Homo sapiens: one gene and its partners. The protein of the gene in region 1 purifies or fractionates together with the protein of each later gene. This does not show direct contact. Each region holds a gene or a part of one and is shown in the gene's direction. Other genes may lie near its edges. The genes, in order: FOXD4, PDK3, PDK2, RNASEH1, PDHX and DMKN.

Evidence for each region.
Region 2: the proteins of FOXD4 (region 1) and PDK3 purify together in Homo sapiens (affinity purification with mass spectrometry; 2 studies listed by BioGRID and IntAct, with this or other methods). This does not show direct contact.
Region 3: the proteins of FOXD4 (region 1) and PDK2 purify together in Homo sapiens (affinity purification with mass spectrometry; 2 studies listed by BioGRID and IntAct, with this or other methods). This does not show direct contact.
Region 4: the proteins of FOXD4 (region 1) and RNASEH1 purify together in Homo sapiens (affinity purification with mass spectrometry; one large-scale study listed by BioGRID and IntAct). This does not show direct contact.
Region 5: the proteins of FOXD4 (region 1) and PDHX purify together in Homo sapiens (affinity purification with mass spectrometry; 2 studies listed by BioGRID and IntAct, with this or other methods). This does not show direct contact.
Region 6: the proteins of FOXD4 (region 1) and DMKN purify together in Homo sapiens (affinity purification with mass spectrometry; one large-scale study listed by BioGRID and IntAct). This does not show direct contact.

The regions. Positions count from the first base shown.
Region 1 is NC_000009.12:115,731-119,616, reverse strand, and holds FOXD4 (forkhead box protein D4), read left to right. Parts: upstream 1-1,199; 5' UTR 1,200-1,497; coding exon 1,498-2,817; 3' UTR 2,818-3,386; downstream 3,387-3,886.
Region 2 is NC_000023.11:24,524,286-24,527,785, forward strand, and holds part of PDK3 (pyruvate dehydrogenase kinase, isozyme 3 isoform 2 precursor), read left to right. Parts: intron 1-1,912; coding exon 1,913-1,989; intron 1,990-3,288; coding exon 3,289-3,390; intron 3,391-3,500. UniProt on the Homo sapiens protein: Inhibits pyruvate dehydrogenase activity by phosphorylation of the E1 subunit PDHA1, and thereby regulates glucose metabolism and aerobic respiration. Can also phosphorylate PDHA2.
Region 3 is NC_000017.11:50,094,086-50,098,150, forward strand, and holds the start of PDK2 (pyruvate dehydrogenase kinase, isozyme 2 isoform 1 precursor), read left to right. Parts: upstream 1-1,265; 5' UTR 1,266-1,350; coding exon 1,351-1,468; intron 1,469-1,609; exon of another isoform or gene 1,610-1,725; intron 1,726-2,046; exon of another isoform or gene 2,047-2,201; intron 2,202-3,337; coding exon 3,338-3,479; intron 3,480-3,812; exon of another isoform or gene 3,813-4,065. UniProt on the Homo sapiens protein: Kinase that plays a key role in the regulation of glucose and fatty acid metabolism and homeostasis via phosphorylation of the pyruvate dehydrogenase subunits PDHA1 and PDHA2.
Region 4 is NC_000002.12:3,541,334-3,544,833, reverse strand, and holds the end of RNASEH1 (ribonuclease H1 isoform 1 precursor), read left to right. Parts: 3' UTR 1-3,404; downstream 3,405-3,500. UniProt on the Homo sapiens protein: Endonuclease that specifically degrades the RNA of RNA-DNA hybrids.
Region 5 is NC_000011.10:34,993,118-34,996,617, forward strand, and holds the end of PDHX (pyruvate dehydrogenase protein X component, mitochondrial isoform 1 precursor), read left to right. Parts: intron 1-1,796; coding exon 1,797-2,055; 3' UTR 2,056-3,011; downstream 3,012-3,500.
Region 6 is NC_000019.10:35,503,650-35,507,149, reverse strand, and holds part of DMKN (dermokine isoform 2 precursor), read left to right. Parts: intron 1-964; coding exon of another isoform or gene 965-1,024; intron 1,025-1,163; coding exon 1,164-1,211; intron 1,212-1,384; coding exon 1,385-1,432; intron 1,433-3,500. UniProt on the Homo sapiens protein: May act as a soluble regulator of keratinocyte differentiation.

The DNA.
Region 1 (3,886 bases):
AAAATACAAAAAATTAGCCGGGTGCGGTGGCGGGCGCCTGTGGTCCCAGCTACTTGGGAGGCTGAGGCAGGAGAATGGCGTGAACCCGGGAGGCGGAGCTTGCAGGGAGCCGAGATCCCGCCACTGCACTCCAGCCTGGGCGACAGAGCGAGACTCCGCCTCAAAAAAAAAAAAAAAAAAAGGAAAAAAAGAATGAAGAGCCAGAGCCAGGCATAGTGGCACGCCTGTAGTCCCACCTACTCAGGAGGCTGAGGCGGGAGGATCACTTGAGCCCAGGAATTCAAAGCCAGCCTGCGCAACATAGACCCTGTCTCTAAAAATGAATTGGTTATAAAGGATGAAGAAAGGAAGGAGGAAAGGGAGAGAGAGAAGCCCTTATAGAGTGGGTGCATTTCTTGTATGTGGGGCCACTTTGTAAGAACAGGATTTTTCAAACTGGGCCCATACTGGTATGTGTGAAATCAATTTAGTTGGTTATGGCCATTTTTTTTTAAAAGGAAATATCAGTGATCACTATAGTGTAAGTATATTGTTTCGTGAAAGCCATCTTAGTTATGTATTATGTCTGTATGTGTAAGATTGTGATATAAAATGTATTTCTGTGGTTAAATATTCAAAGAAATTGGAGAACCATTGCTACAAGGGGACAGAGGACTCCGTGTGAGCTCTCCTGCCTTCCCTGAATAAACTTACACAATTTAGTGCTGGGACATTTGAACCTTTTCTGAAAATTTGAGTCAGGGAGAGCATCTTGGGGAGGTGGGAAGGAAGGTAGAAGGAGCAAAGCAACACCCCCCTGAAGCCTGGGAATATTGTCAGAACCTTAAATATAATTCAGCTCACCATTCTGGGTAAGGACAGACTCTACCAATGAAAATGGGTGATTACCAGCTGTGAAACACAAAAACATACTTTCACGGTTACACATTCCTTTACAAACAACCGTGTACATTTCAGCCTCCTACCCCACCATTTCTTTTCTCCAGGCGGGAAGGCTGCATGTCGAGGTGGTCGTAGAATGTTGAGTATCCTACTTTCCTACCTCGCTTTTATTTGCGCGGGTTTAAATGCGCCTTAACAGAACCCGTGCAAAGGCTTGCCTACTGTCTGGCTGCACCGGATGAGTAGAGCATCTTCCTTGGTGGCAGGTGGGTGCGAGGAGGAGGGCGCTGGGCTTTTCTCCGGACGGTGTTTGCCCAGAAGACCATCATCCCTGGACTACGTTAGGAGGAAGTGGCACCGCTCCGAGGTAGGGGAAGAAGGGTTATAAAGGGAGGCGTCCACCACACATGGTCTTGAAGAAGCTTTTATAAAAGGCGAAGGCATCTTTGCCGGACGTTGTTGCAAAGGCGTAGAAACAAGCAGAGGAAAACATCCCAAAGGGTAACCACTAGCGTTCCTGCTTCTTGCAACATTCATCCCGGGCTTCCAGCTCAGCCCGCCGGGGCCAGGTGATCCGGCCGCCACATCCCCTGCGACTGAAGCACCTGCTCCGCCATGAACTTGCCAAGAGCTGAGCGCCTTCGCTCCACACCGCAGCGCAGCCTCCGGGACTCCGATGGGGAAGACGGTAAAATCGATGTCCTGGGAGAGGAGGAAGATGAAGACGAGGAGGAGGCGGCGAGCCAGCAGTTCCTAGAGCAGTCGCTCCAGCCGGGGCTGCAGGTGGCCCGGTGGGGCGGGGTTGCGCTTCCCCGAGAGCACATCGAGGGCGGCGGCGGCCCGAGCGACCCCTCAGAGTTTGGCACCGAGTTCAGGGCACCGCCAAGGTCTGCGGCGGCCTCTGAAGATGCCCGGCAGCCGGCAAAGCCCCCCTCCTCGTACATCGCGCTCATCACCATGGCCATCCTGCAAAGCCCGCACAAGCGCCTCACGCTCAGCGGCATCTGCGCCTTCATTAGTGACCGCTTCCCCTACTACCGCCGCAAGTTCCCCGCCTGGCAGAACAGCATCCGCCACAACCTCTCGCTGAACGACTGCTTCGTCAAGATCCCCCGCGAGCCGGGCCGCCCAGGCAAGGGCAACTACTGGAGCCTGGACCCCGCCTCCCAGGACATGTTCGACAATGGCAGCTTTCTCCGGCGTAGGAAGCGTTTCCAGCGCCACCAACCGACCCCGGGAGCCCACCTGCCCCACCCCTTCCCTCTACCTGCTGCACACGCCGCCCTGCACAACCCCCGCCCAGGCCCTCTGCTTGGGGCCCCTGCCCCGCCGCAGCCAGTCCCGGGGGCCTACCCCAACACCGGCCCCGGGAGACGCCCTTACGCTCTGCTGCACCCGCATCCTCCTCGCTACCTACTGCTCTCGGCCCCCGCCTATGCCGGGGCACCGAAGAAAGCAGAAGGCGCGGACCTGGCGACCCCGGCACCCTTCCCGTGCTGCAGCCCTCACTTGGTCCTCAGCCTTGGGAGGAGGGCAAGGGTCTGGCGTCGCCACCGGGAGGCGGATGCATCTCTTTCAGCATTGAGAGTATCATGCAAGGGGTCAGGGGAGCGGGTACAGGGGCTGCGCAGAGTTTGTCCCCGACCGCGTGGAGCTACTGCCCCCTGCTCCAGCGACCGTCAAGCCTGTCGGACAATTTTGCAGCAACAGCAGCGGCATCAGGAGGAGGACTGCGCCAACGGCTGCGCTCCCACCAAGGGCGCGGTGCTGGGCGGGCACCTGTCGGCCGCGTCGGCGCTGCTGCGGTATCAGGCGGTGGCAGAGGGCTCTGGGCTGACATCGCTGGCCGCCCCTTTGGGCGGAGAGGGGACCTCACCAGTTTTTTTAGTATCGCCCACGCCCAGTTCCCTGGCCGAGTCCGCAGGGCCCTCCTAGAGCCAGGTGGGAGTGGGGAGCGACCCGCAGCTGCTCACTCCACCTTGCGCGGCCCATACTGGGCGTGTGCATCTGAATCCCGCTGGAGAGCAAACACGAACTTCTGTTCCCTGCAAAATGGTTAGAAAGAAACAGCTGGATTACGTTCCTCTAAAAACCACCTGAACGTAACCTTCGCAGGGCGTCAAGTCATCTTTTCTTGCCTTCGGTTGTGGCTTCTGTGGCTTTCCCGATTTGCACATGTCCTGGGGTACTATGAACGTGAGTGGGGTATTTTGTTCTGGCATTAAAAGAAAAACAAGCAAGCAAACAAAAACACAGCCTCCGATGCCAAACATGTTCCCCCTTCTTCACTTCCTTGGAACTGGAAGTATTATTCCTAAGTCTAGTGCAAAATGCTTCTACTCTCTGTGTCTTCCTGATAGGGATGTTTAATGTAAGTAGGATATTAATTTCAGAACATTGATTTCTTATCTGTGTGTCTGACGTGCCATCTTTAATGTTAAAATTAAGGTGTTAAAATTAAGCCTAGTTATATAGACGAAATAAAATGCTAAGTCACTACACTACATCGTTTATTTTCTATTACGTCTCATTCTTCCCTTTCTAAATGGAACTTTTTAAAACCTACATTATTTTCCCTCAATTTATTTTCACAATTCATATTTATTATAGATAGCAGAAGTAATCCATTTTAATATGGCCTTTAAAAATTCCAAATATTTGAGGTTGAAAATGTCCTGGCTTTTAAAATAGGAAATTTACTATTTATGAGACTTCTAAAAGAATGAATAGGAGGGCATGTAAATATATTCTCCATTTATTTTTCCTCACCCCCCAACAAGCTGGAAAACCATTTGAGATCAATTTGGAATGTAGTGGCCAACATGTACTCAGGGAAAATAAAAGGCTATAAATATACATATATATATATATATATATATATATATATATATATATATATATATATATATATACACATTTTTTAAGCACTAGAATTTTCAAAACTTATTTCCTAAAAAAAAAACTCTGAAAAGACTTTGCAACTAGAAAGGTTTAAGTGTTACTC
Region 2 (3,500 bases), on another chromosome or scaffold:
TCTTGAAGAATGGACTGGATACCATGCAGTAGGTATGGAAGCTGGAAGTAGGTATGGAAGCTGGAAGTAGGTATGGAAACTGGAAGTAGGTATGGAAGCTTCCAGTAAGCTGGAAGATCTTAGCGAAATGGCATGGACCAACTATGAAGCAACCCAAAAAGGGTAGCATGATGTTGACCAGTTGGAGGAGTATAAAGAAACTCCATTTCATGTTAAGGCTGGGAACATTCTCCTCCAAGGGACACATGAATCATTGTTATTGCATTAATAGGGAAGAAAATGTCTAGGTACACTGTTGTGGTTGTTCTACAGTGATCAATATTTACATAGTTATAATGTCACCAACACTTGATTTTCTACTTTCTTGAAAGAACCTATAGGCAATTTACAGCATCCCTAATTTGGGTTACAGAACAGAATGTAAATATTACCAACCCAAAGACTACAGCAGAAGTAGTAAAGAGTGGCTGCCTCTGGGTTCAGACTGAAGGATAAGATAGGAAAGGGGGAAGGACTTTTGTTTTTCTTCTTTTGTTAAATTTTTAAGCCGTTTACATATATTACTAAGTGATTTTAAAAACAACTGCTCAGGCCAGGCACGGTGGCTCACGCCTGCAATCCCAGCACTTTGGGAGGCCGAGGTGGGCAAACACCTGAGGTCGGGAGTTCGAGACCAGCCTGTCCAACATGGCAAAACCCCGTCTCTACTAAAAATACAAAAATTAGCCAGGAGTGGCGGCGCACACCTGTAATCCCAGACACTCAGGAGGCCGAGGCAGGAGAATCGCTTGAACCCGGGAGGTGGAGGTTGCAGTGAGCCGAGATGGCGCCACTGCACTCCAGCCTGGGCAACAGAGTGAGACTCTGTCTCAAAAAATAAATAAATAAAAATAAAAATAATTGCTCTTTGAAGAGTTCGGGATTTAGACTCAAAAGCTCTTTGTTCAGGTGTCTGGTTTCGGTGCCACTTCTGGGACCACGGGCAAGTCACACAGGCTTCCCAAAGCCTGTTTCCAGACCTCTAAACACCACCACCCCTCTAGGAGCCAGGAAGTGTTGTCAGGAGGAGTCAATTGAATAATGTATGTGAAAGCTCTGTGTAGACTGCTAAGAATCAAGCAAATGTGAACTCTAATTTGTATTACTGTTAATTACTTTATTAGAGGAAGTAGCTGGTTGAAATTACAGCATTCTACCTGAGAGAGTTCATGTAGTTTCAATCTCTTAAGTGATTTTGGGTCATGAGGAGGAGGAAGGACTGTATTTTTGAGCATCTGCTCTGTACCGCACACTGTTCTTATTGCTTCACCTGGGTTTTGGTGTTTCTCAGATTGTCTTCAGATGACCCATGGTGCAAGGGGAAAAGATCATAGGTCTCTAGGGGTTTATGTGCTAGCTGCTTGAGAAAAAGTTATGTGAACCTTACATTCTATGCTATAAGATGCCTTGTTTGTCATAATTTAACAAAACTGAACACTGCCATTTAGTCCAGTTCACCAGCCCTTTTTTTTCCTGTTGCTCCACATTCTCCCGTGGAATTCCCCCTGGGGTCAGTGGCAGAAGGTAGCCCCCAATTTGAAAAACACCAAGTGATATCTGACTGGCCTTCTGTAATACTCAGGATGTTATGGCATAGGTGATAATATTCCAATTCTGCTCAACAAAGTTTCAAAGAGATTGAGTGATTTATCCAAGGTCACATAGCTGGTAAGTGAAGGAACTGGGTGTCACCCCAGGTTTGTTTGATTCTAAAGCATATGCTTTTGCTCAGCCCTGCCTTTAGAGGTGGAAACTCAAATTAGCCTTTTATAGAGCTCTGTTTTACACACTTGGAAAATAGAATGCAAACATCATTCTTGAATTTCTCCTACTTTGGGTCCTTATTGATTGATGGTTTTGTCTCTGTTTTCAGCCAAAGCGCCAGACAAACCTATTCAGGTGGTTTATGTGCCCTCACATCTGTTTCATATGCTATTTGAGTTGTTCAAGGTAAGTGGAATTTTAAAAACGTGGAAAGAAGTCTTCATTTTAAATTACTTTGATTCAGGGCATAATGGATTCATTAGATTAGCATAAGAAAAAGGTTTTGCATAACCATTTTAAAAATTCTATTTCTGATATCCTGTGGGTTTTATAATTTGTACACTGTGAGATGAGAAATTGCTGTGTACACTATAGTTTTTGTGAATATTAGTACATATTGATTTTGAAGCTTAATTGCACTTTAGTGATTTTATGTAAAATCCATACTGTTTTTTCTTTAGTTATGAGATTAGAGATGCTTTTTAGTTTCCAAACCTGGCAAAGGCTTTACTGGTGATAGCCAGATCAAAATAAAAACATGTTTATACATATTTATGCTTCTGAAAATTAACCACACTGGTACATTAGTGGTTGTTCCAGTCCTGAGAGATCCTGCAACTCTTTTATAAAATATTTGAATCAATTCAGAAGATCCAAGAGAGGCAGAGGAGAAAGATGTAGATGAGCTGGACCAAAAGAACCACCCCTCCCCCCCACCAAATTCTTTAGAGTCTGCAACTTAAGCTGTTGCTTTTGTTAATCAGTAGCTAATGACATTTACAGTAGCAGTATTACAGGCACAAGGCATTTGAGCTAAAATTTCATTTCTTCCAATGCGTGAAACACTAAATTGAACACCTGAAAAATCAGTTATGCTGATTTGCTTCCAAAAATTAGAATGTTACTGATGTAACGCTTTAAGGTTGAAATGGGCATTCAATTGTGAACTTTCTCTTCAGCAGCTGTGGCTTTTTCAGAATTTCTTTTTAACCAATATTTCTTCTACTTTTTTCAGCCAAATGATTAATTTTTGTGGGAAGCATGCATCCTTTCAGTTTTTCTGCCTTCTTTAGAGAAAAGGTGCTCTATAAATGCAGACTGATAAATAGGATTTAAAGTGCACAAATCAGCCTCTGCATAGCCTCATTACATGCGATAAAAACATTCCTCTGGGTTGAGTTGAATAATTTAAATACCGTAAAGCGAAAAAAAAAAAAAAAGAGGAAGAAGAAGAAGGAAAGAAAAATAAATATTTAGCATGTTGGATGAGGCTAAAACTAGGTGAAAAACAAAGTGTCAGGAAATTTTTCCTTGATTTGAGCACGTTTAGCTAAGCTCTTTAGAGGGAAAAATGCCATAAAAATCCAACTAATATTTGCCCCAAAAAAGGGTTGTTGGGTATAAGTCATCTTGCGCTTCTTTCTCTTTAAAAATTGTGGTTTGTGATTCGGCAGTATGATTAATAAAAAGATCTTATTATTTTAGAACTCAATGAGAGCGACAGTTGAACTCTATGAAGACAGAAAAGAGGGCTACCCTGCTGTTAAAACCCTCGTTACTTTGGGTAAAGAAGACTTATCCATTAAGGTAACTGTTTTATGTGCATGTATACTTTAATTATCAGTTGTGATTTAATAGTATCTAGACATTGAAAAATCAGAGGGAAGGAAATTGACATTTATTGAGTGTCCTGTTTG
Region 3 (4,065 bases), on another chromosome or scaffold:
CTATGAAATGAGGCTAAGAATAATAAAATAGAGAATTAAATGAGATAATGCCTGTAAACAGTGCCTGGCATATAGCTTATTATTCATCCAGCTAAGAGGCCCTTCCATATGTGAAGCTTTGCTCTGTGAGGTCTGTATTACAATCACATTCAGTTATAGCTAATTATTTACTTATGTAGCTATCTCTGAAACTTAGAAATGAAATCATCGAGGAAAAAGGCCATTTCTTGATCCTGTCTGTGTTCCCTGTTCCCAGCATAAAGCCTAACACGTATTAGGCTAATGTCACCGAGCAAAGAAAGCATCAAAGTGGCGGGTCGGGCCCTAAACCCACGATGGGAGATACCACATTCGGCCACAAGAGGGCGCGTCACATTTTCTCCAAGAGAAGCTGGGCCGCTGATGAAGGACGGGCTCCGGGCCTCCCAGAGACACTTCACCTCCTGGGATCTTGCTCTAAGGAAGCCCGGTGCGAAGGAGGTGGCTTTCTCAGGTGGTCGCGCTAGATGTCCAAGGCTTTATGTTCGGTCAGATGAGCTGTATAATAAAATGAAAGTGTTAACTGGCATGGACGATAGCTGCTGCCTCCACCGCCACTAGTAGTGATGGTTTTTACTCTGGATGTTTTTCAGTTGGAAAAGCAAACTCCGCCTTTTCCTGAGCCGCTTGGATCTTTGTGGAAGCGGGTGGGCTGCATATATACAGGACGGATTCGTATAGGCTTGCACCCTGGTTCCGAATTTTGCAAATATTCGCAGTCTGGGTCACTGTCATCCGGACTGGGAATCCCCAAGACCCGTTAAGGGAGGATAGGTAACGATCATGACAGGTGAAACAGGTACCTTTGAGTTGGAGAAAAGGGATTGGTTGAAAGCTACCTAGACAACTCTGGAAAGGAAGGGTTAAAAGGAGCCTGCAGGTGAAGGAGATGCGAGGGGGTAGCAAGGGAAAGGCAGGCGTGGAAGAGGAAGCGAAAGGGCTGGCGGGGCTCTGGGAAGGAAGGGGTTAACCCGGGCTTCGCCCCGCGGAGGAAAGGGAGGAGTGAACACAGGGGAGGTGGGAACTCGGCGCGGCCTCCCCAAAACAACAGGCCGCCCCGGCAAAGCGTGGGTTAAGGGGGCGGGCCCGGGGGAAGCCACGTGCCGGGGCGGAAGGCTATTGGTTCGCCCGGAGTTGTTTGTGAGTGGCCATTGGCGACGTCGAGGCGCCATGACGAGCCGATTGGCTGGGCGTTGGAATGCCCGCCAGGGCAAGGGTAGGGAGGAGGCGGCCGAACCGCGTCGCTGGGCCGAAAGGTGCGCGAGCGCTGCCCGCGCGGGGACCACAACCAAAGTCGCGGCCGCCGCAGCCATGCGCTGGGTGTGGGCGCTGCTGAAGAATGCGTCCCTGGCAGGGGCGCCCAAGTACATAGAGCACTTCAGCAAGTTCTCCCCGTCCCCGCTGTCCATGAAGCAGTTTCTGGACTTCGGTACGGAGTGGGCGGGAGGCGGCTGGCAGCGGAGGCCGGCGGGGCGCTGGGAGGGGCAGCCGGGGGCTAGGGGGACGGAGGAGAAGAAAGGCCCCGAGTGACAGAGAAGGGTTGTTTGGAAAGGTACAGGCAGGAAAGAGTTAATGGGGAAGCAGGAACCGGCCGGGGCCTCTCGACGGGGCTGCTGATGGGAATGGGGGGCATTTACAAGGACGGTCCCGAGGTTTCTTCGTGGGCCTCATGAAGGGTCTTGAAGAGTAAGGGGCAGTGAAGCTGTGATGTTACTGCAGGAAGGGAGTAGGGTGGTATCCAGACGCGAAAGGGTTAATGGGAGTTGTCCTCATGACTGGAGGAGTAGGGGCCCCTCCTCCCACCAGAGGAAACCGGGGGTCTGCTGGTGGGAGTGAGGAGGCAGGGTTTAGAGGTGCAGCCATCTGTAGAGAGACCTGGACTGGGCATGAAGGGTCAGACACCCCTGGGCAGAGGGTGAGATTAAGCCAGGGGCAGTTGGGGAAGGGGGCTCTTTCAGAAGATGCCATTGGGAGACAGTGCCCTGACTGGTAGACATCCACCCACAGAAGGAGCTGGACCCTAGCTGCCCCAGTGGGCAAGGACACTTGAAGATCAAATCTGTTCCGGCCTGGCAGCCTCTCCCCAGCTGGGCAGGGGCCCCAGGCACCGTGATGTGGAGTCAAGCCGCCTATACCTCCCTTGGCTGCCCCAGGGCTGCTAGGTCAGGATCGCCCACTACCAGCAACCTGGGGGTGGCCCTGGGGCAGGAGGGAGGCTGTGCCAACGTGGCAGCTGAAATGGGCATTGTGTGGGCCCTGTCTGTCTATGTGGTATTTCCATGGTGCCAGCTGGGGACTGGGGGTGGGGGGCAGTCTCTCAAGAGTTGAGTTGATAGTGCCTAGCTTGGGTTGCAGCTGCGTCAATGATGGGACGGGAACAGAGAGGTGGCAGCCGAGACATAAGGCACCTGTTCCTCAGGACTTGTCTGCCTGCACCCCTGCCCTGCCTGAGTCTTGAGCCTCCCCCATGTAGGAAAGCCTCCTGGGCCCACCCCTAGCCCCCAGCAGCTGTCCCCACAAACTGCACCCTAATTACAGAAACATCACAGCTGTGAGGGGCTCACAGTAGAGTTTGGTCAACTTGTAGTACTATGGGGGAAACTGAGACCTTCAAAAGGATGATGGCATGGCCTGGGTGACAGAGTTGGAAGCAGAGCCTGATGGACTGGAACCCAGGGCCCCTGACCCTGGGCCAAGGCCATATTCGGTCCCCCACCCTTTCCATCTTGACACCAGACAAGGACCGAGGCATTTGGACTCCTGTTCTCAGGCCCGTTTGCCCCATGGATGGGCATTAAGACACAGCAGCCCCACATGGGCATTCAGGCCAGGCTGGGTGAGGTGGGCTGGCCAGAGACAACACTGGGAGCCTGCAGTGGTGGTCTAGCCATAGCCCCCCTCAGCCAGAGCCCAGTCCTAGGTAGGGATGGGTTTCCCAGGCTCCTTTGTCCCCTGGAATCAGCCCCTCAAAGTGAGTGTGCTGGGAGGGAAGGAAAGAGAAGTGAGGTGACTGAGGCCAGAGGCAGCTCCAAATGGGCCCAGGAGTGGCCCTGTCCACTGTGGTTAAAGGCAAGCAGGGTTCAGCTGGGGATGAGGAGAGGATGACACCTCCTGAAGTGTTAGGCATGGGGTGTAGGTGTTTGAGCCCTGCAGGGGATGGGGAGCCTTGCTGTGTGCCCCGGGCAGGTCACTTGCTCTCTGAGCCCCCTGTTAATGAAGGGTTTAGCTGACCTGGCCGAGACATCCTTTGGCTTTCATAGTCTGTGGCTCTGTGGCTCACCCCTCTTTCTCCTGCCAGGATCCAGCAATGCCTGTGAGAAAACCTCCTTCACCTTCCTCAGGCAGGAGCTGCCTGTGCGCCTGGCCAACATCATGAAAGAGATCAACCTGCTTCCCGACCGAGTGCTGAGCACACCCTCCGTGCAGCTGGTGCAGAGCTGGTGAGACCCCTGGCTCAGTCCCTGCACCTCCCACTCCATCGCCAGTGTCCCTGGGCTCAGGGATGGCATCTCCAAGCTTTTAGCAGCTTTGAGGGTGGGGTGGGGACAGACAGGAGACACCAAAGCCCCAAGCGCTTGGAGTTGCCTAGGGTCACGTGGGAATCTGAGGCCAGAGCAGGACTGAGGTCAAGCTCCTAGTCTCTGTGTCTAGCCCTCTTCTTACCACCCACCTTTCTCTGGAAACACAGGATCCACCTAGGAAAGCATGGTTTTCACAGCCAAAACCCCAATTCAGGCTGATGTCAGCATTAGCCAGCAGCCCAGACCTGGAACTCCAGTAACTGTTAGGCAGTATTTATTTGGGGGTAACTTTTTGGGAAGCAGAAACAAGAAGTAAGTTTTCAAATACATTATATAACCCAAGCTGCAAGACAGACTGTTTTGGATGTTGGAAAATACTCAGATACACACAAGGATGGCACAGTACCTTCCCGAAGAGCTTTGGAGGGGCAAAGACCAAACGTTTATTGCGCACTGCAGCAGGAACAGAGGGAAAGGCTCAGCAGAGTTCACTCAAGAACTCAAG
Region 4 (3,500 bases), on another chromosome or scaffold:
CACTGCACTCCATCCTGGGCAACAGAGTGAGACTCTGTCTCAAAAAAAAAAAAAAGTAGTAAAAGTTTGACATGATTATTTATTTAGTTTTAAACCTTTTTATTATAAAAACATACAGGAAGTGACACAAAACAAATGTATAGCTTATTGAATGATTATGATTGTAAGGTGAATAACCTTTGTGTCCACCACCTGGTGAAGAAATAGTACTTTGCCAGATACCCCAGGAGGCTCTCCCAAGTGCCCCTCCAGCCACAGCCCTCTTCTTCTCCCCCTCCTTGCCCCAACAAGTAATCCTGACTTTTACAGAAATGACTTTCTTGGTTTTTTGATGGCAGTTTAGTCTTGTCTGCTTTTTTTTGTTTATTTTTTTATCTACTTCAGTGTCCATTTGCAGTCCCGTCGGCCTCACTGTTTTCCCTGCCGTTTATCTGTTGAAGAGCCTGGGCTGTTTGTCCCATGGCTTCCCACAGTGTAGATTTTGCTGACCACGTGGTCATGGTGTAGTTCAGCATGGTCCTCTATGTTTCCTGCACATTGGCAGCTGGGTCCAGAGGCTTGATGAGCCTCAAATTTGATCCCTTTGGCAGGAGAACAGGCGGTTAGGAGCTTTCCTCAGGAAAGTACCATGTTGACGGCAGCTGATGCTCAGTGCCAAGATCCATTAATTATTTGGGGTTGCAAAATGGTGGTATTCTCATTCTGTCGTTTTGCTTGCCTTTATTAGCTGGAATGGTTTTCTAAGAAAGTGTTTTCTTTTTTATACTTATCTGGTTACCCAGTGGTACAGTTCATATAGGAAGGGCAGGATAAATGCTTGATTCTTTGCTCTTGTACACTAAGTTTTTAAGATAATGCATTAGTTGTCTGTCAAGGAAGGTGAGTGGTGAAGGGTTTTTACATATATACAAGAATTCATGGGCTGGGCATGGTGTCTTATGCCTGTAATCCCAGCACTTTGGGAGGCTGAGGCTGGAGGATCACATGAACCCAGGAGTTTGAGACTAGTCTGGGCAACATAGTGACACCCTGTCTCTACAGAAAATTAAAATAAAATCAGGTGGGTGTGGTAGTGCCTGCCTGTTGTCCCAGCTATTCTGGAGGCTGAGATGGGAGGATCGCTTGGGCCCAGGAGGTCGAGGATGCGTGAGCTGTGACCATGCCACCACATTCCAGCCTGGGCGACAGCAAGTCCTTGTCTTAAAAAAAAAAAAGAATTTGTGGAGTTAAGCATACTTGGTGGGTTTCAATCCGTTGTGATTTTTATCTTTATTTAGCTCAGACTAGCTTATTCGGTCAGTGAGAGGGAGCCTCTTCAGCTTGGCTCTTGCTTTCTTTTGATAAGTGTGCACATGTGTGCATACATGTGTGCACAGACCACACGCACAGTCATTGATAGCTCCCTGCAGCCTGGCATGTCAAGATGCTCTAGGCCCAATTTATAGAGCTTCTGCTCCAAACCTGTCTTAAAAGAAAAACTTTAGACAAGTTAGCAGTTTAATTGAGCAGAAAATAGTTTCTTCAGCTGGGTAGCACTCAGGACCAAAAGTGGTTCAGAACGTTCTCCTGTGCGTTGTGTGCAGGCTGTATTTATTTATAGCCACAGGAAGGGAAAGACACATGTACATGGCCAGACTGACTGCAGGTCAGCCTCCACCTCACATAGGCATGTTTTGGGAGCCTTCAGCATGTGATTGGTGAGACTCTGCTGCTTGTTACAGAAGTGTACTCTCAAGTCAGGTCCCAGTTTGCTTATACATTAAGTGAGGTTATAAGTCACTATGTACAGAGGCAGTTTTAGGCCAAACTTAATTCCGTTTAACACTTGGAATCCATTATTTTTCCCAGAGTCTCTGGTAGAGATGGTATTTCAGATCCAGTTTAGGATGCTCATTGCTATTGCGTTGGTCATTATTTCTAGATTTTTGGACGGAGCTTTAAAAAAATACAAACATTGCACACACATATTTAAAGGAAGAATATTTTCTGAGCCTATATTGATATTCCCAATACAAATTCAGGGTCCTGGGGCCTTTACATAGCCTCCTCTATATGATGTCTGTGTCTCCTGCACTCGGAATCCTGCTTCTCAAGACACAGGACAATGGCATGGAATATCCATCCCTTAATCACTCACTTGTTTTATTCCTCTTTAGCATTTAGCATTTAAAAAAAATACTAATACCATAGCATTAATTGTGATGATGAAAACAGCACTGTGTCTACGTTGTCAGAAAAATTGCTCCTTTTTACCACCATTGACTCATTTCTGTGTGTTCAGGTCTCATAACCAGTCTATAGTCAGTGTCATCTTGGGGACAGTATTCCTTGAGTTTCTGATGTTGAATTCAGTTTTGCTGGATACGAAATTCTTGGCCCAGATTTTCTTTGAGTATCTTGTTTTATTCTGTTTTCTTCCAGCATAAAGTGATGCATGAAAAGCCTGATGAATCTTGTTTTCTTCCCCTGACAGTCATATGCTGTTTTTCCTTAGATGCCCAAAGGATTTTTTCCTTTTTCTGTCAAGTCGGCCGTTTTATTCGAATGTGTCATGTGTTGGTATTGGTTGTCCTGGTCCATATTTGCAAGCGTATGGTGTGCTCTTTCTATGTGTACTTCATATCTGTTATTTTAAGAAGATTTGCTTGAACTGGAGTTTAGTGTTACATTTTTCTTGCTTTGGCTTTTTTCTGTGGGGATCCCTGTTATCTGTATGTTGAAATCTAAATTGGCTGTTCTCAGTGTTTGCCACTGTCTCTTGAATCTCTTTTATCTCTTTCTTTGTTTCTTTTTGAGTTTTAAAAGTTGTTATTGTACCACTTTTGTTTTGTTTTGTTATTTAAAATAGGAACAGTGTCTCACTGTGTTGCCCAGGCTGGTCTTAAACTCCTGGCCTCAAGCGATCCTCCTTCCTTGGCCTCCCAAAGTGCTGGGATTACAGGTGTGAGCCACCAAAGCCGGCCCCACCTTGCTTTTTAAAACAGCTCTGTTGAGGTGTAACTGACAGGTAATGAACTGCACATACGTGAAGTGACCGATGCATTTGCCTGTGAAGCTGTCGCCAGAACATGTCCATCACCACCAACAGCAGTTTCACACCCCGGTCTAAACCGTCCCTCGTGTCCTCCATGTTCAGGCAACCACTGGTCTGCTCCCTCTCACTAAAGGTTAATTTATATATTCTAGAATTTTATCTGAGTGGAATCGCAGAGCAAGTACTGTGGGGGGAGGTGCTTCTACTCAGCATAATTATTTTGGCATTCACCCATTTTGTGTACATCAATAATCCACATTTTGTATTGCATGGATATACCACAGTTTATTTATTTACCTGTTGACCGATATTTCGATTATTTCCAATTTCTAAATAAAAATAAAGCAAATAAAGCTGCCGTGAACATTTATATCCTCGTCTTTGTCTTCTGTTTCTCTTGGGTAAATGCCTTGGAATGGAATGCTTGGTCATATGGCAGGTGTGTGCTCTTTTTTTCTTTTTTTTT
Region 5 (3,500 bases), on another chromosome or scaffold:
GTAATTCATGAGATAAAGTACCCACTGCAATCTGGTGTCCATTTAAAAAAATGATGTATAGTTCTTATTTCTGGATATACAGACCTTTATAGGATATATATTGTTTCAAATAGCTTTCACACTCTGTGACTTGCCTTTGGGACTCTCTCGGTGATTTTTTTAAATGAACGGAAGTTCTGAGTTTTAATGAATTCCTATTTATCAGTATTTTTCTTTGTAGTTGGTACTGTTCATTTTCTGTTAGGAATTTTTGCCTATCTCAGAGTCATGAAGTTACTCTTCTGTGTTATCTTCTAAAAGCATTTACGTTACTTTTCACATGTAGATCACAATTCAACTGAAATTGGATTTTGTATATAATGTGAAGTTTCAAGTGCTCTTTTTTCCCCATATGGATACTAAATTTACACAGCATCATGTATTGAATATTGATTTCTCCTTTTTCATAGCATTGAAAAGGTGATTATATATGTGTTGGTCTAGTTCTGTGCTATTTTTTTTCCACTGGCCTGTTTGTCTATCCTTTGTTTACTACCACCAAGCTATAACTCTTGATAGCTGGTAATGAAGTCTTCCAATTTTGTTCACCCTCAAGATTGTCTTCTGGCTTTTCGTATTTCCAAATAAATTGTAAAATTGATTTGCCATTTTTCACACACACACCCCTTGCTGGTTTCTTGATTGGGATTGCATTAAGTCTTTTGATGATTTGAGAATTGACATCCTTACAGTATTGAGTATTCTAACCTGTGAATATGGTAGAAACCATTGTGTATTCAGTTATTTGATTTCTTTCAGTTATGTTTTATAATTTTCTGTGTAGAGGTCTTGTATATGTTTCATTAGATTTATTCTTTGGTATTTGTTTTTTGATACTATTATAAATGGTATTGTTTTAAATTTTTATTTTCTAATTATAGCAACTTGTATGTAGAGTCATGTGCCACTTTATGATGGGGATATGAGAAATGCATTGTTAGGCAGTTTCATCATGCAAACATCATAGAGTGTACTTACGCAAATCATGCAAACATCATAGAGTGTACTTACACAAACCTAAATGGTACATGCTGCTACACACCTTAGCTGTATGATATAGCCAGTTGCTCCTAGACTGCAAACCTATACAGCATGTTACTCTACTGAATACCGTAAGCAGTTGTGACACAATGATGAGTATTTGGGTATCTAAACATATCTAAGCATTTTTAAAATGTACAGTAAAAATGTAAAAAGTAAAACATGGTACACCTGTTTAGGGCACTTACCGTGAATGGAGCTTGCAAGACTAGAAGTTGCTCTGGAAGAATCAGTGAATGAGTGAATGCTTAGGACATCACTATACACTACTGTAGACTTTATAAACACTGCACACTTAGGCTACACTAAATTTATTTTTAAAATAAAGTAATTGCAATATGATGTTATGACAGCTATGATGCCACTAGGCAGCAGAAATTCCTGAGCTCCATTATAATCTTATAAGACCACCGTTGTATATGTGATCCTTCGTTATGTGGGACATGACTCGATATAAAATGGATTGTTATATTGACCTTTTATCTGATGACTTAACTAAATTTACTTATTAATTTTACTAGTTATCTATAGTCTCATTTTTCCTGTGTACACAATTAATTTATTTGTAAATACTAAATGTTTCCTTTTTTCATTACTCATATATTTTTTTCTTGCCTTACTACACTGCCTAGTAAAATATATAAAATATGTGCTTCACGGAAAGGGGACTTTGATTAAGGACATGCCTCCTTCAGAGCTTTTTCTTTTCCCCCTAGTATTTCCAACTTGGGGATGTTTGGCATCGACGAATTTACTGCAGTGATTAACCCTCCTCAGGCCTGCATTTTGGCGGTTGGGAGGTTCCGACCTGTGCTGAAGCTCACTGAGGATGAAGAGGGAAATGCCAAACTGCAGCAGCGCCAGCTCATAACAGTCACAATGTCAAGTGACAGTCGAGTGGTTGATGACGAACTGGCAACCAGGTTTCTTAAAAGTTTTAAAGCAAACCTAGAGAATCCTATCCGACTTGCCTAGTCCTCAAAGATAAGAAGTTGGTGTTCAGCTTAGTTGATTCAGTAGTTGTTACCAAGAAACATATGTTATAGGAAAACAACTTGGTATTTAAGTATGAAGTGGATGAAATGTTTATTTATTTAAGGTGAAAGCATTTGACCCAGGGTGTCTTCATCTTCAATTTGGGTTTAATGTTATAGAAATAAATGATGATAAACTCTAACTAATAAAGGAAAGAGAATATTTGGTTACTCAGATCCATTTTTAACCTCTGGTGCTGTATAAAGGGAATATTAAACTAGATGTAAATCAAAGTATATGTTTGGCTCATTTGAGCATTTTGGAATATTTGAGAATGTATGATACATGTAAAATTAAAAAAACTATTAGAACTGTACCATAATTATGTTGAAGGTAGAAGTGATCTTCAAAGAGATGGCCATTAACTTAGCAGTGGGACCTCACTTTTACAAGCACTGCTCTAGATATACTTGAAGAATTTAATAGGTACAGAAGTTTATTCTGGATAATAAATAAATAAGGATCACACTGTATTAGGGGTTATGGCAACATTATTGAATTTTTTATGTACATAAAGCCATATGTTTAGGGTGGTTTCTATCTGTCTTGTTTTTCACTTATATAACACTGTGAACTTCTAAAGCAAGAGGATAAAAGAAGCATGAATGAAAAGAATGACATTTCAAAAAAATGGTTCAATGAAAAACTATAGCTAAAATATGTAAACCTTTCTAGGTAAACCGCTTGCCTTCATCTTGAGTCGGAATATATTTAAATAAATTGTGTTATCTCTTGCCAAACATTTTGTTAGTGTTTATTTAAAAACAAAATGTTGTTTCTTAATGCATTTAAATCAGTTTTGTATTGTGCAGTAAAATGTGAGAAAATATAAACATTTCTATTGTATTTTAAATGTTAAAACACAAAAGTTCAATAAACCTTGAAGTTGATTAGTAGTTTTTCTAGAACACCTTTAAAAGGGCTCTACAGGAGAAAAGACGGAATTTAAAATTAGTATGACATTAGGAAAGTAACTGATAGGAAATGTAAAACTTTGGAAAGAGAATAGAAGACTTATGAAGCCAAACAGATGAGAACTATCCTTTTTATTTCACTAATATGAAATTTTCACTAATTATTATAAAGTTTAGAAGAGTTTGTTTCTCTCTTTTGGCAGCTCTGCTATAACTGTCAAGATAACTATATTTAAGTTGGATGGTAATGAATGGTAATTTAATTAACTTGTCACAAAAAGGTTTATGTTAGTGTCAGCTGACATGAATCAATAGAAGAAAGGCTAATATAGTACAAGTTGTATGGTATGACATGATGAATTATAAACCCTAACAGAAGAGCCTTCTAAAATAATTAGCACCCTGGTGTATTAATTGTTAAGAAAATGCTTAATCCAACTATCCAACTCAGTTTAACAAGCCATTTAAAAA
Region 6 (3,500 bases), on another chromosome or scaffold:
GTCACTGAGCTTTGAGGTAGAAGATGAGGTTTCGAAAGCCAGCTCTGGCCAGGCACCAGCATAACTGTAATCCCAGCACTTTGGGAGGCTGAGGTGTGGGGATCATTTGAGCCCAGAAGTTTGAGACCAGCCTGAGCAACGTAGGAAGACCCTGTCTCTACTTTTTAAAAAGAAAATAATAGGCCATGTGCAGTGGCTCACACCTGTAATCCCAGGTAGCTAGGATTACATGCCTCAGCCTCCCAAGTAGCTGGGATTACAGGCATGTGCCACCATGCCTGACTAATTTTGTATTTTTAGTAGAGATGGGGTTTCACTATGTTGGCCAGGCTGTTTTCAAACTCCTGACCTCAGGTGATCCACCCACCTCGGCCTCTCAAAGTGCTGGGATTACAGGCGTGACCCACGATGCCCAGCCTCAAAAAAATTTAAGATATATATTAAAATCACCACCAGCTCTATCATGTCATCTGTATATCTTCAGGCAAGTCAGCTAACCTCTCCGAGCCTGAGCTTCCTCCAGTAAAATGAGGACAGTGAAACCTGACTCACGCAGCCTTCAGTTACTGTACAGCTTTCCATGTCACCACCAGACCAAGGTGTTGTGGAGTCCAGACTCTGGAGACAGATGCTGCATAAGGCATGGTGCTTGGCGTGCCGTGGGACTACACGTTAGCTAATCTCATTTGCTTGAGGTGTTTTGGGGACAGACCAGGATGGAGGCAAGAGTCTGAATATTGAGATTCAGGGGACTGGGTGGGGTTCCATGGGAGCAATCCATTCTAAGAAAGCTTTCCCAAGTGAACTTTTTGGTGCTGTGTAAGGAAGAGAAGGCAGCTTTATAGAGAGGAGGACAGGAAGCCTGGACCGAGGTGGGGATGAAGCAATCCGGGGCAGGTTGACAGGTGGCAGGCATGATAGGAAGCATAAGCCTTGGACATCGGTCCCCCTTTTCCCCACCCAGGGGCAAGGGTCGAGCTGGGGCAGTGGAGGAGGTGACGCTGTTGGTGGAGTCAATACTGTGGTGAGTGGAGGCAACACTCCACCTTGGGCTGGGACCATGGTGTCACACAATCCTCGCCTCCCCTCCTGCCACTCAGATCTCCCGACTCTGGCTCACAAAGTGGGTTCTTCTCTCATCCCATATCTCCTTGGTTCCATAGAACTCTGAGACGTCTCCTGGGATGTTTAACTTTGACACTTTCTGGAAGGTGAGTTCTGCGAGATGGCTCTGTTCACTCGCATTTGGAAAACCAACCCCTGCCCTTGGCCCCACAGTCTGGGGTCCTCTTTCTAAACCAACAGTCAGCAGTGGCCCTTGACCTCTCTCGGCCAATTACCTTATGACTCAATTTGGCCATTCTTCTTTTTGTTTCCTCCATAGAATTTTAAATCCAAGCTGGGTTTCATCAACTGGGATGCCATAAACAAGGTAAGGGCTGGACATCTTCGTCGGAGAGGGCTATAGGGAAGAAAGCTAAACCTCCGCTCTGTGAGCTGGGGAAACAGTGATGCTGGCCACTGAGGAAGCATTTAGGCCAGTGCTAAAAACAAAAACTAAACACACTGGGGGTGGAGGAGGGAGGACAGAGGAGACCTGAAAAGAGGGGGAGAATCTGGAGCAGCTGAGATTGAGGTTGAGCAGAGGGGACGGGCTTCTTTGCTGTTTCAGCATATAGACCCGAGCAGGTCCTGAACCTCACTTTCCCCTTTGAGATGGGGAAGGTTAAGGGGAGAGTAGATTGACTCCTAGAGGGCACATGGAATGAGGAGTGAGGTGGAGCTAAGAGGCCCCAAGAGGAAGGGCACCCAGAGAAAGGAACCAGCACTGGCCGAGAGCCTCAGGGGTGACAGGCATTAGTCTCTCCCGCACAAACAAAAACACAGCTGGGGCGCAGAACCCCTCCCTCCTTCCTCCCTGCCTACCCTTCCGTCTTGCAGGGGAACCCCTGGCCAGGCTGCTTTGATACCTGAGTAGCACAGGCACCTCTAGAGTAGAGGGGGCTGGAGTGGAAGGGAGGGGAGGAAGGACAGGTGGACAACCCATGCAGACACACCCCCGGCAGAAGCTGCGATTCGTGATTGGAGGATGGGTTTTTGAGACACTCTATTTTTTTTTTTTTTTAAGAATATGAATTAATTGTCAAAGTTTAAACATGGAGAGACTTCACATAATGATTTGGATTTCTGGTTTCTTTCAAAAACTTTGGTAACACTGGGTTCCATTTCCATGGGGTGGGGTTAGGCTAGAGCTGAGAAACAGCTGCTGCTTGGCCCAGGTGGGGGGTGTTGGGAATGGGTGGGGGGGTCACTCCCTAGTGGCCAGACTGTCCCTACCTGTCACAGTCATTTTAGCCACCTGACTGGCCCCTGTGAGCAGTGGAGTTTCTGGCCTTTAATGTAAAAGAGAGAAGACTGGGCTCAGGAAAATCTAAGTCTGACCTTTTAGGAAGGAGATTGAGGAGACAGGAGAGTACAGATGTTCCCACCCAGCTACAGTGGATTCATGTTCTCTGTTTCTTTTCTTTTTTCTTTTTCTTTCTTTCTTTCTTTTGTTTTTTTTTTTTTTGGTGAGACGGAGTCTCGCTCTGTCACCCAGGTTGGAGTGTAGTGGTTCGATCTCAGCTCAATGCAGCCTCTGCCTCCTGGGTTCAAAATGATTCTCCTGCCTCAGCCGCTCCAGTAGCTGAGTTTACAGGTGCCCGCCACCACACCCGGGTAATGTTTGTATTTTTAGTAGAGATGGGCTTTCACTATGTTGGCCAGGCTGGTCTCGAACTCCTGACCTCCAGTGATCTGCCCACCTTGGCTTCCCAAAATGTTGGGATTACAGGCATGAGTCACTGCATCTGGCCTCTCTGTTTCACAGAGAACGGTTTCTGGTAGGAGCAAGACTCTTTCCTGGGTCACAGGGAACTTAGGGTCTGATGGGAGAGCCGGGGCACATACAGACACTTCCCAGAGAGCCAGGATAGACACCCTGCCAGTTTTGCCCATCTAGGGCGGCAGTCGAGGGAGTGATCGCAGTGAGGCAGGATCCATCTGGGCCAGCTCCTCAAGGGGCAGATCTCCTAGAAAGCAGGGCAGGGCAGAGGTGGGCAGGGGAGAGAATGGAGCCCCATTCTTCACAGTGGGGTGAGGGAGCTGAGGACTTCAGCCAGAGTGAGGAGGGAGCAGAGGGGAACGCAGTGTAATGTTCCTGACGATGCAGGGGGTTCTTAAGCCCAAGCCAGGATATCTGGGTTTGTTTGGATAGCAGTGGTGGGCAAAAAGGTCCCTGTAGGTTTCTGGAGCAGGGGTCTCTTATACCCTTGTGCTGGCTCACAATGCCCTGGAATTCCTATTTCTCAAGCTCTCTCTTAGAACCTATTTCTGGCCAGGCGCGGTGGCTCATGCCTGTAATCCTAGCACTTTGGGAGGCCGAGGCTGGCAGATCACTTGAGGTCAGGAGTCTGAAACCAGCCTGGCCAATGTGGTGAAACCCCATCTCTACTAAAAAT